4 linked regions of the Homo sapiens genome follow. The protein of the gene in region 1 purifies or fractionates together with the protein of each later gene. This does not show direct contact. Each region holds a gene or a part of one and is shown in the gene's direction. Other genes may lie near its edges.

The links.
Region 2: the proteins of LRP8 (region 1) and ARHGAP39 purify together in Homo sapiens (affinity purification with mass spectrometry; one large-scale study listed by BioGRID and IntAct). This does not show direct contact.
Region 3: the proteins of LRP8 (region 1) and ANGEL2 purify together in Homo sapiens (affinity purification with mass spectrometry; one large-scale study listed by BioGRID and IntAct). This does not show direct contact.
Region 4: the proteins of LRP8 (region 1) and CRTC3 purify together in Homo sapiens (affinity purification with mass spectrometry; one large-scale study listed by BioGRID and IntAct). This does not show direct contact.

What each region holds. Positions count from the first base shown.
Region 1 is NC_000001.11:53,263,975-53,269,070, reverse strand, and holds part of LRP8 (low-density lipoprotein receptor-related protein 8 isoform 1 precursor), read left to right. Parts: exon of another isoform or gene 1-1,146; intron 1,147-1,913; exon of another isoform or gene 1,914-1,975; intron 1,976-2,423; coding exon 2,424-2,598; intron 2,599-3,057; exon of another isoform or gene 3,058-3,319; intron 3,320-4,674; coding exon 4,675-4,902; intron 4,903-5,096. UniProt on the Homo sapiens protein: Cell surface receptor for Reelin (RELN) and apolipoprotein E (apoE)-containing ligands. LRP8 participates in transmitting the extracellular Reelin signal to intracellular signaling processes, by binding to DAB1 on its cytoplasmic tail.
Region 2 is NC_000008.11:144,675,847-144,680,143, reverse strand, and holds part of ARHGAP39 (rho GTPase-activating protein 39), read left to right. Parts: intron 1-4,297.
Region 3 is NC_000001.11:212,998,868-213,003,164, reverse strand, and holds part of ANGEL2 (protein angel homolog 2), read left to right. Parts: intron 1-2,252; coding exon 2,253-2,379; intron 2,380-2,781; coding exon 2,782-2,839; intron 2,840-4,297.
Region 4 is NC_000015.10:90,640,626-90,644,922, forward strand, and holds part of CRTC3 (CREB-regulated transcription coactivator 3), read left to right. Parts: intron 1-416; exon of another isoform or gene 417-471; coding exon 472-574; exon of another isoform or gene 575-632; intron 633-1,306; coding exon 1,307-1,515; 3' UTR 1,516-4,297. UniProt on the Homo sapiens protein: Transcriptional coactivator for CREB1 which activates transcription through both consensus and variant cAMP response element (CRE) sites.

The sequences.
Region 1 (5,096 bases):
CTGGATTTCACTCTAACTGGGGGGAAACCATTGAGGGCTCTGAGTAGGGAAGGGACATGGTGTGACATTTTATTCTGACTGCAGTATTGAGAACAGACTGTAGAGGACAAGGGAGAAGGCAGGGAAACCACTTAAGAGGTCATTGCAATAATCCAGAAGCGAGGTGATGGTGGCTGAACCCTTATTCCCACATTATTACTGTGGGAATAATGAAAAGTGGACAGACTGCAGATATAGTGCAAAGGCCAGCCAACAGGATTTGCTTATGAATTGAATGTGGAATGTGGAAAAAAAAGTTACAGCAACTGAAAAAATAAGATTGCTACGTATGGGCTTGGGAAAGATGGTGAGGGAAGCAGGTTTGGAGGAATCTTAGGCTGTTTTGGACATGTTATGTTTAAGAAAACTGGTTAGGTATCCAAGTAGAGATATTGAGAAGGCAGCTGGATATATGAGTCTGGAGTTCATATGCAAGTTAAATACAATATACAACAGATAAATTATAACAATACAGCAGCCATAATACTGACATGTAGCCCATAAACCCAAAAACTGTAACACCCAAACTGTACAATATGTAACTCATACATTAGTATATCACATATAACGTGTAACCTGTTCTTGCCCCCATATAGAACACATGTAATACATGACACAGATTATGTACATGCACTGGAGACAACATGCAACTACCCATGCATATACAAAATCCACACACATGAATATTTCAAGTGCAGTTACATAAAATCTCAAATCATAAACACAGGGGGTTCCTGTCACAGTCACAGCTGTCATTTAAGATCACTCCAACATGCCCCTTTAACCTGGCTCCTGCCTTCAGGGAGGTGAAGTGTCATTACTGTCATTTTGGGGTGAGGGAAATCACAGCTTGTCAGTGGCAGAGCTGGCCTGTAACTCAGCTTTCATCCTTGCCCCTTCCTGCACCTTGAGCCCATTCTCCATGCTATTTGTACCACACTTCTGTCTCACTCCCACCCTGCTTTGAATTAGTCTCCATCACTACACACAGGTCACACACCCAGCCCCAGGCCCTACCTGACTCTGTGCTGGTCCCATCCTCCAGGGAGCACATTAGCTTGGCAAAGATGCACAGTGACAGGGACTGGTGGCTGGCAGAAGTGTCAGCTGGAAAACAAGAGAAGGAGGCACAGGGAGCTTGAGGGGCAGGTGTTACTAGGAGCAGCCCCTCAGACAGTGTTGGTGCCTGAGAGTGGCCCAATACATCTAGAAACAGCCTGTGGGAGCTGGTGCTAGGCCCTCAGAGGCCCATGGGACAGTGTCCTCCCATATGGAGTAGCCAGGAAAGTCTAGGTCACTTATTTATCATCTTAAAATCTAACCCTAAATCTAAGAAAAATACAGGTTTTGTGTATACATGAGCAGTTTATGTTGTCTCTACTGCATATATATAATCTGTGTTGTATATCATATATGTCCCATCTCTGCCATTGGCTCAGGATAGAGAACAAACTCACCCAGCTCATAGGACCTTTTGTGATCTGGCCCCTGCCAATCTCTGAAGCTCATCTCTTGCTATGTCCCCAATACTTTCTATCCTGAATCATCTTTTTTTTTTTCCTTTGAGACAGAGTCTCTGTCACTCAGGCTGGAGTGCAGTGGCACAATCATGGCTCACTGCAGCCTTAACCTCCCGGGCTCAAATGATTCTCCCACTTCAGCCTCCTGAGTAGCTGGGACTACAGGCATGTGCCACCATGCCCAGCTAATTTTTTTTTTATTTTTATTTTTAGAGATGGGATTTTGCCATATTACCCAGGCTAGTCTCAAACTCCTGGCCTCAAGCGATGTGCCAGCCTCAGCCTCCTAAAGTGCTGGGATTACAGGTGTGAGCCACTGTGCCTGGCCCCTAGTTATCTTTCTAAGACACTTACTTGCTCAGGTAGTTCCTTCTTGAACCACAGCAGTAGGGCCCAAGCAGAGAAGATGATAGTTGCTGGAAAGAAATACATAGTAGGTGGAAGGGACAACCTGAGCAAAGGCTCTGAGGCAGGAAGCCCATCCATGGCTAGGTAATGGTATCTGGTAGGTGGAATCAAGCTATGTTGGAGAGGCGAGTAATGAGGCTGGACAGGGAACTTGGGGTCACACTGTGGAAGGCTTTCAGTGCAGGCCTAAGGAGAAAATGGGGAGCCATAAAAGATTTTGGAGAAGTTTGTATCTAATAAAAAGAATAAGAATCTTCCTGCTATGCGTGGTGCTCTGCATCTTCTGCTTTCTGTACTCATTATTTCATCTGCTCCTGCAACCTGTAAAGTAGGAATTGTCACTACTATTTTAAGGAAAATGGATGTGTCAGCCAGCAAGCCAGTGGCAGAGTCTTGGTCTCCAGGCTCCCTGCCTCTTGCACTGACTCTTTCTCTTTCAACCTCCCTGCATGACAGCTGGCAAGAGCCCATCCCTAATCTTCACCAACCGGCACGAGGTGCGGAGGATCGACCTGGTGAAGCGGAACTATTCACGCCTCATCCCCATGCTCAAGAATGTCGTGGCACTAGATGTGGAAGTTGCCACCAATCGCATCTACTGGTGTGACCTCTCCTACCGTAAGATCTATAGGTGAGCGGCCATATCCTCTGCAGCAAGGCATGAAGAGTGGGGGTGAGGGGTGGTGACAGGTGAGGAGGGGAGGAGTGGTGTCTGCCTCTAGAGCTCCTCAGGACAGAGTTGGGACTTGGGAAGAGATGCAGGATCACAGTGGATATGGAACTTCTGGGACTTTACTGGGGCTGGAGTAGTCTGAGGGCTCCCTTGGGTTAGCAGCTTTGAGCCCCAAACACCTGGGATTTGTCTGACCTCTGGAGGCCTAATATGGAAGCACAAGACACAGGAACTGTTTGGCCAGGGCAGAAAGGAAGAAATCCTGGCTTTGGGGAGGACTTTCCAAGCAGCTCACATCCCTGTGTGTTGGAACCTGGGGACTTAGACCTGGTCCCTGCCCAGAGGATCCCACTCACAACACAGTGACATCCATTTGTGATGATCATGAGAAAGTACAGAGGAGGCCTCCGAACCCACCTGGGCATCTGATCTGGCATGCCTTCCTGGATGGCATCACCCCAAGGCCAGCTTTTCACTGTCTTTGACGCCACAGTCAGTGGACCTGGTGCTTGGGAAGCTCTTCACACACTGGAGGAGGTTCTCTCCTAGGACTTTCTCAGATGCCAGCACCTGCCCCACTGCATGTCTGGGCCCTCTTCAGGCAGTCATGTCCTTTCTTTGTCCTGAGATCCACTTGGCAGGAATGCCGATGACCAGGCGCTGGGTAGACACTGAGTCACTGATGAAAGAATGATGGGACAGATGGGTGGAAGAGTGGATGGAAGCAAATATAGCAAGTGCTACTCACTGACAACTAGATTCCTGCCTCCCTGCAACATACAGACACTCCGTTCACACACACCCAAAAACATAACTAGAACAATGCCTGTCCAAGAGATGTAACTGAAAGAGGCAGGATTTGGTGACAGACTAGATATGGGGCTGATGGAAGAAATTTACTCCTTCATAGTGAATTTTGGGAGTTTCAGGTTTTTGGCTTGGGAGGTTTCATGAATGGTGGTGCTGTTCTCTGATGTGTGAAGCAGTAGAGGAGGATCAGGGCTCAGGGTTTGGGCCGTCTGGTTGGCCGAGGGGAAGGGAATGGGGATGAACAGTTTTGGACATATTGAGTTCAAGGTGTCCATGGGACATCCAAGGGGAGCTAGTTAGCTTTGCAGTCTGGATCGTAAGAGAGCTGTTGGGATTGGAGACTTAGTTATTGATGGCAGTGGACACTAAGGAACTAATCACCCAGAGAGAGGGCAAGAAGAAGAAAACCTCTGGGGAAACAGCATTTGCTATTTTGCTAATGTTGCCTCCTGAGTGTCTACTGTATTCTTAGCCCTTCTTTCCATTCTCACTGGCACGGTCATTCTTCAGACTCTCTTAATCTCCCACCCAGATGCTGTAACGTCCTCCTAACCAGTTTCCCTGCTTCATTCCCTCTCCTTCCAACCCATCCACTCCATAGATGCCACAGTGAACTAACATGCTTATTGGACTATATCCTCTGGCCTGTCTAGTTATCACTGGGGAGAAATCCTAATTCCTTGGCGTGGTACTCAAAGCCCATCAAGATGGGGTTCCTGCCTACACCTGCTTGCAGTCTGACACCCACATAAGCAGCTCCCCTAAGTATCTCACTGTTCCAGAGCAGACTCACCTCTGGCCATTTGCACAAGCCTTTCTTGTTCCCTAATGGCTTTCTGTCCTGGTGACTTCATGCTCCTGGTGAACTCGTCCTTCAGGACTCAACTATAAAGCCTTCTCCCGCCCTCTCGGATGAGGCAGTCTCCATGCCTCTGCTGCCATAGCCTCTAATGCTTTCCATAATCACATTGTATTATATCTGGCTCACCCTAATGGGCAGAGCTGTGGAGCAGCCCCACCTTAGAAAGCCAGAGACCGTGGCCCATGTAAGTCTGTACCCCTACCCTGGTACCCCAGGGAATGTGTAGAGTGGAAATTATCCACGTTCCTCTAAAAATCTATTGCCATGGCCCAGATGGAAGAGAGGGGAAGGGTGCACAGGTAGCTCCAGATGGGCCCATGGGTGGAACATCTGCCCCATGGTCATCTCTGTTTTCTCTTAAGCGCCTACATGGACAAGGCCAGTGACCCGAAAGAGCAGGAGGTCCTCATTGACGAGCAGTTGCACTCTCCAGAGGGCCTGGCAGTGGACTGGGTCCACAAGCACATCTACTGGACTGACTCGGGCAATAAGACCATCTCAGTGGCCACAGTTGATGGTGGCCGCCGACGCACTCTCTTCAGCCGTAACCTCAGTGAACCCCGGGCCATCGCTGTTGACCCCCTGCGAGGGTGAGTGTCCCAACTGAACTTCCCATTCTCCCACCATAGGTGCTCAGTCCTCTTGTGTCTGTCACAAGGGCTATCTTGAGGGTTCTAGAAAGCTCTGGGCCACTCAGACACAGGCCATGGGGAAGAAAGTCTTGTTAATCCCCAACCAAGGTTCTCTGGGCATTGGTCACCAAAGTTCTCCCTGGACTCTCCCA
Region 2 (4,297 bases), on another chromosome or scaffold:
ACAGAAGTATTTTCACATTTTGGGAGCAAAGGTGAGAAGGTTGGTTATGTGTGGTTTCTAGCGGTTTAAAGGTTGTGTAAGGAATAATGGGAGATAAGGGTCATAATGAGAAGGTCTTTGAATTCCAGTTAAAGGCTTTAGATTTTAATTTTCTTTTTGTTTTTGAGATGGAGTCTTGCTCTGTCGTCCAGGCTGGAGTGCGGCGGCGCGATCTCGACTCACTGCAAGCTCCGCATCCTGGGTTCACGCCATTCTCCTGCCTCAGCCTCCCAAGTAACTGGGACTACAGGTGCCTACCACCATGCCCGGCTAATTTTTTGTGTTTTTAGTAGACACGGGGTTTCACTGTGTTAGCCAGGATGGTCTCGATCTCCTGACCTCGTGATCCGCCCGCCTTGGCCTCCCAAAGTGCTGGGATTACAGGCGTGAGACACTGCGCCCGGCCTAGATTTTAATTTTCTAGCTAACCGGGAGCCACCGCAGGCAGCTTTGTGAGCAGGGGATGTCCTGATTAATGGTTTAGGGAGATTTAATTGGCAATGTTCTGTAGGATGGGTTGGTGAAGGAAGAAATCCAAATCCAGGAGTTTACTGGACAGCTTTCTCCAGAGCGAGTTGCAGTAGCAACCCCAGCACTGCAGCGCTCACAGCAGCAGAGGCTGATTCCTGCCCGCGTTTCGTTTGCTTGTGACTCTTTTCCAAGAGTCTTCATTTCCAGATCCAGGACCAGGCCTTATGTGGCACATGCTGTTTTTATGGCAAGAGAGTGGCAGAAACCTAGTGTCTTTTCCGGCACCATCCTGGACTGGCATCTCAGGGTCCACGGACCAAAGCAGGGTGTGACGTACAGCCTCCTATGGGGAAGGTGAGCCCCTGCTCGGACGCTGTGCTGAGCAGAGCTGAGGAGCCCGTACCTGCTGTCTGGGCCATCTCACCATGACTGAAGGTGCAGCTGGATGTCTCCCCTCAGCCGCAGATGCTGGACGCTGGAGCCGGCCACCATGCGCGAGAGCCCCTGAGGCGGCTCAGACTCAGCACCCACATTCACTTCTGGCCTCAACCCTTTGGGGCTTTGGGACCTTCACCTGCTTGGTCACCACCTAGAATTTTGGCGTGCTGGGTCCCCCTCTCAGCTGCCATGTGGTACGGCTCCAGGTCCTCTTGCCAGTTCCCCCTGAACAGTGATCAGAACCCCTGCCTGAGTGGGACCTGCACCATGTCCCTCCTGCACTACGCTGTACCTCCTGGGGCTCTCCTGCCCCAGCCTTGAGCCACTCCCCTGTCTCTGCCACATAGCTGCTCAGATGATATAAACAGGGCAGTGATCTCCCCAGGGGTGATTCTGACACCACTCCCCGCCCTCCTGCCACATTTGGCAATATTTGGAGACATTTTTGGTTGTCCCAACTAGGAGGGGATGGCCAAGGATTTGTGGAGGCTGGGGATGCTGTTGAAATCCTACAGTGCACAGGATGGCGCCAGGCTCAGAGCGTCTAGGCGAGTGACTCTGCTGCCTGGCTCTCCTCCCTGGCTCCCCAGTGCCTCCTGGACCATGCTCCACAGCGCTGCGTGACCCCAACCTACTCTGCTCTCCAGAAAAACTGCCATGTGGTCATGGGCCAAGTCTTTCTTGGCGTCCCTCCTTCCAAAACTAAGCCAAGCTCACTGGTTCCTTCAGCCCTTTGACTCAGACTCAGGTAATGTCTGTGGGAGCGCCTCCTGGATCGCTGCCTTGTCCTCAGGTGCTCCACCCCCTCTCGTAGTGCTCTAGGTGGTGCTTTTGGTCACTGCACAATCACATAATATTTTCTCCCCTCTAGACTGGGAAGTCCTTGAGGGCAGCAGATACATTTGTATTTTCTTTTTTTTTTTTTAGAGAGAGAGTCAGGGTGGGTTGTCCAGGCTGGAGTGCAGTGGTATGATCACAGCTCAGTGCAGCCTCCATCTCCTGGGCTCAAGTGATCCTCCCACCTCGGCCTCCGAAAGTGCCAGGATTGTAGACATGAGCCATGGCACTTGGCTGTTTGTGTTCTGAATGTCTTGCTGCAGATTGCAACATTTTCTTTGAGCACTGGCTTCAGTAAAGATGATTGGGTTTAGGATGGGGAGTTGCCCTCAGAGAATGGCTGGCGCAGCAGGGGGAGGGACTCGTTGACACATTTCCCACGTCGGCTGCTTCCATCTTCCTGGGCCTCTCTTGTAACTTGCTTTCCTAAGTGTAAATGTCTTGATTCTCACAGATTCTCTATTTTTGCTTCCTAGAAAGTTTCAATTTTGTTTAACATTTTTGAGCAGATAATATACGTGGTTCAAAAGTACAAAGGGAGCTCAGTGAAGCCTCCTAGTCTCTACCCTGGAACCTGGTTCCCCTGGAAGCTTTGCTGGACCAGCTTCTTGTGTATCCTTCTAGAGATACTTTGTAACTTTGCAAGCAAACAAGTGTATGTATTCTGTTTTTTTCCTTACCCTTTTCTTTTTAAAAAGTTTCTGAACCTTGCCTTTTTCAACTATGTTTGAGAGATCTTTCCATATCAGTACATTTTCCGGTACATTCTTTCCATGGCCGCACTGTATTTGGCTGTATGGAGGTGCTGTGGAATTTTCATGCTGTTACCAGCAAGGCTATAGGCACAGTGTTTTGCAAATGTACCTGTAGGACCCATCCTAGAAATAGCATCTCTTTCTTCAATCACCGTTTATTCCGTCACATCAGGGTTTGCTCTTGTCTCTTAGTGTCTTTATTTCTGCACTTCCTTTGGTCATTTATTTCTCCTAATTATCTCATCTCTCTATATTTTAAATAATATAGTAGGTCAAATTAAATGAATGTCTCAGTTGGAAACTGGTTCACCTTTTGTGTGTTCTTTTGGTTGAGTGACTGGAAATATACACGTCCACGCAGAAGCTTGTCCATGAGTGTTCACAACAGCCAGAAAGTGGAGACAACCTAAATGTCCATCAGCGGATGAACGGATAAACACAATGTGGTCCATTCCTGCAATGGAATATTATTTGGCAATAAAAGGAAGTGAGTTACTGATTCATGTTATAACGTGTGTGAACCTTAAAAATATGCAGGCCAGGCACGGTGGCTCAGGCCTCTAATCCCAGCACTTTGGGAGGCCCAGGCGGGCGGATCATGAGGTCAAGAGATCAAGACCATCCTGACCAACATGGTGAAACCCTGTCTATACTAAAAGTACAAAAATTAGCTGGGCGTGGAGGTGAGAGGTGACAACGTGCTGGCAGCCCTCGCTTGCTCTCGGCGCCTCCTCGGCGTCCGCTCTGGCCACGCTGGAGGAGCCCTTCAGCCAGCTGCTGCGCTGTGGGGGCCTCTCTCTGGGGCTGGCCGAGGCCAGAGCCGGCTCCCTCTGCTCGCAGAGAGGTGTGGAGGGAGAGGCGTGGGCGGGAGCCGGTGCTGTGGCTGGCGCCTGCTGGGCTTGATCTGGGACGAGCTTCCTCTGGGCTGCCGGAGTGCCCGGGCTAGGTGCCGTGAAGTCCCACCATTGAGAGGTGAAGCCGGCTGGGCTTCTGGGTCGGGTGGGGACTTGGAGAACTTTTCTGTCTAGCTAAAGGTTTGTAAACACACCAATCAGCAGTCTGTGTCTAGCTAAAGGTTTGTAAACGCACCAATCAGCACTGTGTGTCTAGCTCAAGGTTTGTAAACGCACCAGTCAGCAGCACGTGTGTCTAGCTCAAGGTTTGTAAACGCACCAGTCAGCAGCACCCGTGTCTAGCTCAAGGTTTGTAAACGCACCAATCAGTGCTCTGTGTCTAGCTAATCTAGTGGGGACTTGGAGAACTTTTGTGTCTAGCTAAAGTATTGTAAATGCACCAATCAGCACTCTGTGTTTAGCTGAAGGTTTGTAAACATACTAATCAGCACCCTGTCAAAACGGACCAATCAGCTCTGTGTAAAATGGACCAATCGGTGGGAGGTGGGTGGAGCCAGATAAGGGAATAAAAGCAGGCCACCCAAGCCAGCAGCGGCAACACGCTGGGGTCCCCTTCCATGCTGTGGAAGCTTTGTTCTTTTGCTCTTCGCACTAAATCTTGCTGGTGCTCACTCTTTGGGTCCGCGCCGCCTTTATGAGCTGTGACACTCACCGAGAAGGTCTGCAGCTTCACTCCTGAAGCCAGCGAGACCATGAACCCACTGGGAGGGAAGAACAACTCCTGACGGGAGGAAGGAACAACTCTGGACATGCTATCTTCATGAACCGTAACACTCACCGCGAAGGTCTGCAGCTTCACTCCTGAAGCCAGGAAGACCACGAACCCACCGGAGGGAACGAACA
Region 3 (4,297 bases), about 160 Mb from region 1:
GGAATGCATTAAGTCTCTTCAATTTTTTGAAGGCTGAGAGATGAGGAAGCTGCAGAAGAGAAGTTGGAAGTTAACAGAGGTTAATTTATGAGGTTTAAAGAATGAAGCCATCTCCATAACATAAAAGTACAGGTAAAGCAGCAAGTGCTGCTGATGTAGAAGCTGCAGTAGGTTATCCAGAAGATCTAGCTAAGATCATTGATGAAGGTGGCTACACTAAATAATAGATTTTTTTTTTTTTTTTTTTGAGACAGGATCTCGCGCTGTTGCCCAGGCTGGACTGCAGTGACACGATCTCGGTTCACTGCTACCTCTGCCTCCTGGGTTCCAGCGATTCTGCTTCAGCTTCCCAAGTAGGTGGGATTACAGGTGCATGCCTCCACGCCGGGCTAATTTTTTAATATTTTTTGGTAGAGGTGGCGTTTCACCATGTTGCCCAGGCTGGTCTCGAACTCCTGGGCTTGAGCAATCCTCCTGCCTCAGCCCCTCAAAGTGTTGGGATTACAGGCATGAGCCACCGCACCTGGCCAACAATTTTTAATGTGGATGAAACCACTTTATATTGCAAGAAGATGCCATCTAGGACTTCATAACTAGAAAGAAGAAGTCAGTGCCTGGTTTCAAAGGACAGGCTGACTCTTTTGTTAGGAGCTAATATAGCTTGTTACTTTAAGTTAAAGTCAGCATTCATTGACCATTCTGAAAATCCTAGGGCACTTAAAAATTATGCTAAATCCACTCTACCTGTGCTATGTCAGTGGAAAAACAAAGCTTGGGGATGACAGTGCATCTGTTTATGGCATAGAATATTTTAAGCACACTGCTGAGACCACTATTCAGAAAAACAGATTCCTTTCCAAAGATTACTGTTCGTTCACAAGGCACCTGGTCACCCAAGAGCTCTGATGAAGATGTACAAGGAAATGAATGTTTTTTCATCCCTGCTAACACGGCATCCATTCTGCAGCCTATGGAATCAAGGAGTAATTTTGTACCTACAGGTCTCCTTATTTAAGAAATACATTTCATAGGCTATAGCTGCCATAGAAGTGATTTCTCTGATGGATCTGGGGAAAGTAAATTGCAAACCTGCAAAGGATTCAGCATCCTAAATGCTATTCAGAACATTCGTGATTCATGGGAGGAGGTCAAAATATCACCATTAAAAAGAGTTTGGTAGAAGTTGATTCCAGCCCTCATGGATGACTTTGAGGGGTTCAAGACTTCAGGGGAGGAAGTAACTGTAGATGTGGTGGAAATAGCAAGAGAACTAGAAGTGGAGCCTGAAGAATTAACTGAATTGTTTCAATCTCATGATAAAACTTAAATAGATGAGGAGTTGCTTCTTATAGATGAGCAGAGTATTTTCTTGAGATGCATTCTATTCCTGGTGAAGATGCTGTGAACATTGCTGAAATTACAACAAAGGATTTTAAATGTTACATAAATTTAATTGATAAAACATTGGAAGGGTTTCCAATTTTGAAAAAAAGTTCCGTGGATAAAGTGCTGTCAAATAGCATCAGATGCTACAGAAAAATCTTTTATGAAAGGAAGCATCAATGGCTGCAGCAAATTTCATTGTTGTCTTATTTTAAGAAATTGCCACAGCCAACCCCCACTTTAAGCAACCATCACCCTGATCAGCCAGCAGTCATTAATATCTAGGCAAGATCCTCCACCTGTAAAAAGATGATGACTCACTGAAGGCTGAGATGATTGTTAGGATATTTTAACAATGAAGTATTTTTAAATTAAGGTATGTATTTTCTTAGGCATAATGCTATTGCACACTTAGTAAACTACAGTATAGTATAAACGCAACTTACATGCACTGGGAAACTGAAAAAATTATGTGACTTGCTTTATTGAGATACTCACTTTATTGTGGTGGCCTGAAACCAAACCCGCAGTACCTGTGAGCATGCCTATATTTGATACAATAGGAACTATATTGCAGGTAGTAAAAAATGATGAATAGTGTTAGTTCAAAGCGATAGATGATTTGTATGTCCAAATTAAAGAAAAGCATGTATGGGAAAAAGATTGTCATTTTTATGTAAATGATAAGTGCTTTCTGAATTGTATTTAAAGAAAAGAAGATTTTATAAGTCCAAAGAATCACTTAATACAATGAATAAAGGGTAATAATTTACCACTTTTGGATTACCTTTTATTTAAGACATAAATTTTTCAACTCATAAGCTATTTAAAATCTTTTCACTTAAGATACCTGTTGAAATTTTGTTTAGGTATCTGGCCAGGAACAGTCTTCACGGGGACAAAGAATTTTATCTATTCCAATTTGGCCCCCAAACCTAGGTATCTCACAGAACTGTGTGTATGAGGTACAGCAGGTACCAAAAGTAGAAAAGACAGGTAAGTGTTTGTAATACATTTTGGCAGTCTGCTGGGTAATCATGTTCCCTTTGAAGACATAAAACTAAGTTTTTAAAAAGAAAAAATCTCAGGGATGAATATTCATATATATAAATATGTAGTTATTCATTTTTTTTCTTAAGACCTCTAAATTTACCTTTTTAAAGTTGAACTTCCAGAATTATCTGTGCATGATTTACTTGCATGTTGCTTTGGAATTGTTTGCATTTTTCTATTTTTCCTAATTCTGGAGGCCATCGAAATATATAGATTCCAGAATGAAACATGTAACTAGGCATCTTTCTAACCTAGATAAGTCTTAAATATTGTTTCTAGAGTAAGATGACGATATTAAGGCAAACTAGAACAATAACATTAATATATTTTCCTCTATTCTTACAGACAGTGATCTGACACAAACACAGCTGAAGCAAACAGAGGTCCTAGTGACAGCTGAAAAGTGAGTTCTGGAAAGCAAAAGGAGACATTTGCTAACTTTAGTTGAATAAAAAACTCATTTCTCAAAAATCACTTGGATAAAAAAATGAAGGTGATAGTATTCCGTGCTGGTGAAGGGTGCTGGCCCTTAAGTCAGATAGGCCTGAGTTCCAGTCCTGACTCTGCTGTGTTTTAGCCGAATGATTTTGAGCAAGAAACTTAACATCTCTGAGGTTCAGTTTCTTTGTCTATAGTTTGGATTGTTGTGAGGATTAGATGAGACAAAGCATATAAAGCACAATGTCTGAAACATACCTAGGCACCTAGGTAGTGTTAGGAAGGGAAACAGCTTGTCTGTGGACCTGGACCAGCTCAAATACTCTTTGAAATTCACATACTTAAACAAAGGTCAAGATCACATAAAAATATCTTTCAGATCTCAAAAGGATCTTTAGTTGTCTTTGATTTACTAAATCTCAAAACCATCTATAAGAGAATTGATCCAAAAATGAATATGCCAGTTGAAAAGATGATCATTTTAATTTATCTCTTGAACTGTAGGAGAAGATTGTCAGAGGGGTGAAGATGCTGGAATTCTTCATTAAAGAAATAGGAATATTTGGGGCTATGGTTGAGAAATTGATACATGTTAATAAAACAGGACAGAGACTTAAATCTTGTCTCAGGGAGATTCTTGAAATATCTTGATTGTTAATTATATTGTGGCTGTTTTATAGTTTTTTGTTTTAACATTTAAATTTAGGGACCAATTCTCATTTATTTTATCTGCTTCTCAATCTTTATTTTGTATACCTTGTTTTGAGAAAATATTACTACATAAATAAGAACTAGTAAGAATGGAAGCAATTTTTAAAAAAATTTTTTAAATGAATATTTTAAAATTCATGATTAAACCTTTCAATATAGTAAAAACTTCTTTGAATAAGATTAATAAGGAGGCTAATCTAACAAGTACTTCGTTTTGAGTAACTCTTAAATCTTTTTGTAACAATATAGGATATAAAAAAGATATTGGCTGGGCGTGTTGGCTCACGCCTATAATCTCAGCACTTTGGGAGGCCAGGGCGGGAGGATTGCTTGAGCCCAGGAGTTTGAAACCAGCCTGGGCAACACAGTGAGACCCTGCCTCTATTAAAAAAAAAATTAAAACATTCTGGCCGGGCGTGGTGGCTCGTGCCTGTAATCTCGGCACTTTGGGAGGCTGAGGTGGGTGGATCACGAGGTCAGGAGTTCAAGAGCAGTCTGGCCAAGATGGTGAAACCCCATCTTTACTAAAAATACAAAAAATTAGCCGGGCATGGTGGCATGCACGTGTAATCCCAGGTAGGCTGAGGCAGAGTATTGCTTGAACCCTGGGGGGCAGAGGTTGCAGTGAGCCGAGATCGCACCACCGCATTCCAGCCTGGGTGACAAAGCAAGCCTCCGTCTCAATAATGATAATAATTTTAAAAAATAGATA
Region 4 (4,297 bases), on another chromosome or scaffold:
GAGCCGAGATGGCGCCATTGCACTCCAGCCTGGGCAACAGAGACCCTATCTTTAAAAAAAAAAAGAAGAAAGAAACCAAGGAAGAAGAGTCCATACTTCCTTGGTTATAGACAGAGCCTTTGAAGGGTTCCCACAGAAGGCAGTTTGCAAAGGCCTTGGTGAGGCTGAGGACAGATGTCTGAGGGGCCACAGAAACCATGAGCATTGGTGTCTCTTGGGATGGTGTAGTGGGCTGGGGAAAAGTCACCACGCTGTGGACCTCAGGGACCCCTCCTCCACCCCAGCGTCTGCCTGCCTGACAAGAATATTGTGCATGCATTACCATAAGAGCAAAGCACTCTGGGATCCTGGAAAGAAGGGAATATGGATTAGTTTGCAAGTCAGGTTTTGCTCTGGGAGCACATTGCAATACTCACTTCCTCCTTGGAAACAGAGGTGTGGCCTTCCTCACATGACCTTCGATGCTTCCAGGTGCCTCTGGTGCAACAAGGTTCCCGAGAACTGCAGGACTCTTTTCATTTGAGACCAAGCCCGTATTCCAACTGCGGGAGTCTCCCGAACACCATCCTGCCAGGTGAGCGAGCTATCCCTCAGCTTCTTTACTGCTTTTATGTTGTTGTGTGTTCAGGAACCTTCATAAGAGAGTTTAAACAACATAATATTATATAAAGCAAAAAGTTAACGTTCCCTGGGTCGACTTGACTTTTTGAGATGCAGGTGTCCAGCCTCAGAGACCGTGACACAGGGCGGTGGGCCTGGTAGTCAAAGCCTTTTCTGAAAGATTTCATCTGGCCCAGTGCGGTGGCTCACGCCTGTAATCCCAGCACTTTGGGAGGCCGAGGTGGGCGGATCATCAGGTCAGGAGATCGAGACCATTCTGGCTAACACAGCGAAACCCCGTCTCTACTAAAAAATACAAAAAAAATTAGCTGGGCATGGCGGCGGGCGCCTGTGGTCTCAGCTACTCGGGAGGCTGAGGCAGAATGGCACCAACCCAGGAGGTGGAGCTTGCAGTGAGCCGAGATTGTGCCACTGTACTCCAGCCTGGGCAACAGTCTCCAAAAAAAAAAAAAGATTTCATCTTAGGTGACTGATGACTGTTCAAAAGGAAAAAACCTGCAAAAATTGGGAGTTGTGCAACTGACTGACAAGAATGTAGATTCCAGGGCAAGAACTGTGGGCCTGGGGGTGGTCAGGATGTGTGGGATAGCAGTTTAGGGGACTGTCATCAGCTGGGTTTGCTTAGTAGCCTGGAGCCTTCGCGCCTCCTAACCGCACTGTTTTCCCCTCTGGCCACTCCTTTCAGAAGACTCCAGCACCAGCCTGTTCAAAGACCTCAACAGTGCGCTGGCAGGCCTGCCTGAGGTCAGCCTGAACGTGGACACTCCATTTCCACTGGAAGAGGAGCTGCAGATTGAACCCCTGAGCCTGGACGGACTCAACATGTTAAGTGACTCCAGCATGGGCCTGCTGGACCCCTCTGTTGAAGAGACGTTTCGAGCTGACAGACTGTGAACAGAAGGCAGTGGAACAGAAGAATGTTTTTCTGCAACAGCCAAAATAGAATGGAATAGAATGAAGCCAGCTGATACCACGGGCTTTCGTTATCTTGACATAGAAGGAAGCAATGCCACGGCTCCAGGGTTTCAGATGAGATCCCATCTCAGACACTGTGGCTTCCTCCAGATCACACAGCTTTGTACTGCCTCTCCCGCCTGTGGCCAAAGTCGTGTTGCAGCAGGCAGGCTGCTTGGAGCTTCCCATGAACTGGAAAGCTCACCTCCACTGCATCTTTTTACTGGCCATCCAGTCAGCCGATGTGTAAGAGTAGGAAATACTGTGTCACTGGAGGCCTCCGTAGCATTGTGTAGTGTGCTCAGAACCACTGATCTCCGTCCGCACCGAAGGCGGGCCCGGAGTGGGAGGCTCGGCCTGGGGCGGCGGCACCGGAGAGGGCACCTCGATGCCTGCTCTGACCTGACCCAGAGGGCGAGGCCCTCCAGCGGGGGACATTCCCAGGCTGAGTGGACCCCACGGCTCTCTCCCACGCCTGGATTACGACATGAAGTTTTTACCACAAGCCCGAGGGCAGGCTTGAGTTAGGCAGACTGAAGGCTAATTTTCATTTTCTCCCAGCTGGTTTCTGCTGCTTCAGAAAAGTACACCTTTTCCTTATGGACCAGAGGAAGAGGAAGACCATTTTATCAGTCACTGAAAAGAGTCCCCTGGCACTGATGAGCCTGAAGAGAACTGTGCTCCTCCTCGGGGGCTGGGGAAGGAAGACAGGGACTGCAGGTGTCTCATACTCAGTGGCCTCCAGACAAACTCCAGACAAGCACAGACCTCCCCACTAAGAGCAGCCAGAGGGAGCTGGTGAGGCCCTAACCCCACCCACCGAGCAACTGAGCTTCCCCATCCCTCCCCAGAGCTGTGTCTCTGTGGGCTGGGAGTCTAATGTCACCCCCCTAGACCGTAAGCTCCTTGAGGGCAGGGACAGTGCCTTATCATTGTTGAACCCGTAGCACCTAACACGTGCGTGGCAGCACAGTCGTGTGCTGGAGTGAGTGCTGCAGAACCGTGCGTGCAGCGCATGATGAATGAGTGCGTCCGCCATGCCGTAAGGCAGGCTCACCTGTAGCTATCCCCTTCCCTGCCAGATCTTCTCAGAGCTTTAGCTTTTCTAGCACTCGTGCCTATGGTGAAGCATGCACTTTAATATGCTTTTAACACTAGGTGACCAAATCACAGTGAAGCCGGGCACTGCATTCTCCTTGGGCTGTGCTCCACGCGGGTGGGTGGGAGCTGTCTTCTGAGTACATCCGGAAGGGCTGAGCAGGTGAGTGCCCTGAGCATCCTGGCTGGGCCCCACCCAGGAAGATCTTCCTTCTCAGATCCACGTTTGGCTCTAAATTGCTTCAAGTAGAGATTCATTCTTTGAGGTTGAAAAAATAGTTTATAGTAAAACGAAGGCCTAATTCATGGAAGCATCATTAGTCATCAATACCTTCTCATAAAATAGATGGGCCAGATTTCCACCACCGCCTGCCTCCTCTAACTTGGGTGATGCCAGTAGGTTTGAAGGGGGCAGAGCACTGCAGGGGGAGGGGGGGGTCTAGGCTGTGAGAGGACAGGGTGGAGAGGAGGAGAACCCTGAAGGAGAGACGGAAGATGCCAGGACCTTTGCTTGGACAGCCATTGCCCTTCCAGGAGACCCTGGAGTGTACTGAGGGTTGCTGGACTGTTCCACCCAGAGGAGCAAGGCTGTACAATGAGGGTCTGAATCTGGCACACCTGTCCCTTATGTAAAAGGAGTCGTGGTCACAAGACCCTGGGCTGGTTAGCCTCTCCCGACCTCATTCCATTTCTATCTTCTGACCTTGCCTCTCATCTTTAAAATAACCCTCATGGGGTGCCCCTCCACCTTCCTCTGGAATCCAAGTATTCCTGTTTCACATTTGCCCCAAATCTTTGCTGTGGAATTGGGAAATCAAACCAGAGTCCTCCTCGCCTGATTTCCAGCTCAGGAAGGGCCTGCTGGCCTGCCCTGTTCCCAGTTACACTTTCAGATCCCTTTGTGCTCAAGATCTCAGAGGGGGTGGCTTTTTGTTAAAGAGCCTTCAGTCGCAATGCTACCCAGCACCCCATGTGCCAAAAGAAACCAGCTCCTGTGTCAAAGGGCTTCCAAACCTGATCTCACTCTCAACAGGCGATGGTGCTGATGTTTCAAGAATTGTGTTTTTATAAAACAGAGGTCTCAGCATAGTCACTCTTCACATAGTGCCTTACCCATGGGTATCGTCATATCCGGGTCCCAGTTCAGTTTGTCTGCACAGCAGCCACCCTGCCTGGCAACAGAGACCCCAAGACCTACACAGTGAACCCTACTGCCCCAAAGGCGTTCTCCAGGTGACTTGTGAAAACAGACCTCCGGGGAAGTGATTTATTGGGGGTGTACACTGGGGGCAATATGGTTTAGCACTGAATTCAATTTGTCCTTAGGTCTATGAGTGAGTCCGATCTTTTCTTGTGAAAGGTTTTGGGCATCGTACAACCCACTCTGCCTAGAAGGTGTGGAGGACTCACCACGGGCAGGGTCGCCCTGGCCCACAGCACGTGAGCCTGCACTCACTGCGGCCTTTGTAACAAAACCAGTTGTGGTCCTCAGCATTTGAAGCAGCTGCATACTTCAGAGTAAACTATTTTTCATTATTTAGTTTTGTCACAAGAAATCGACCATTGTACTACTCTCACTTACAGCAGTTAAACAGCATAGAACTAAAAACCTGTCTGCATTTCC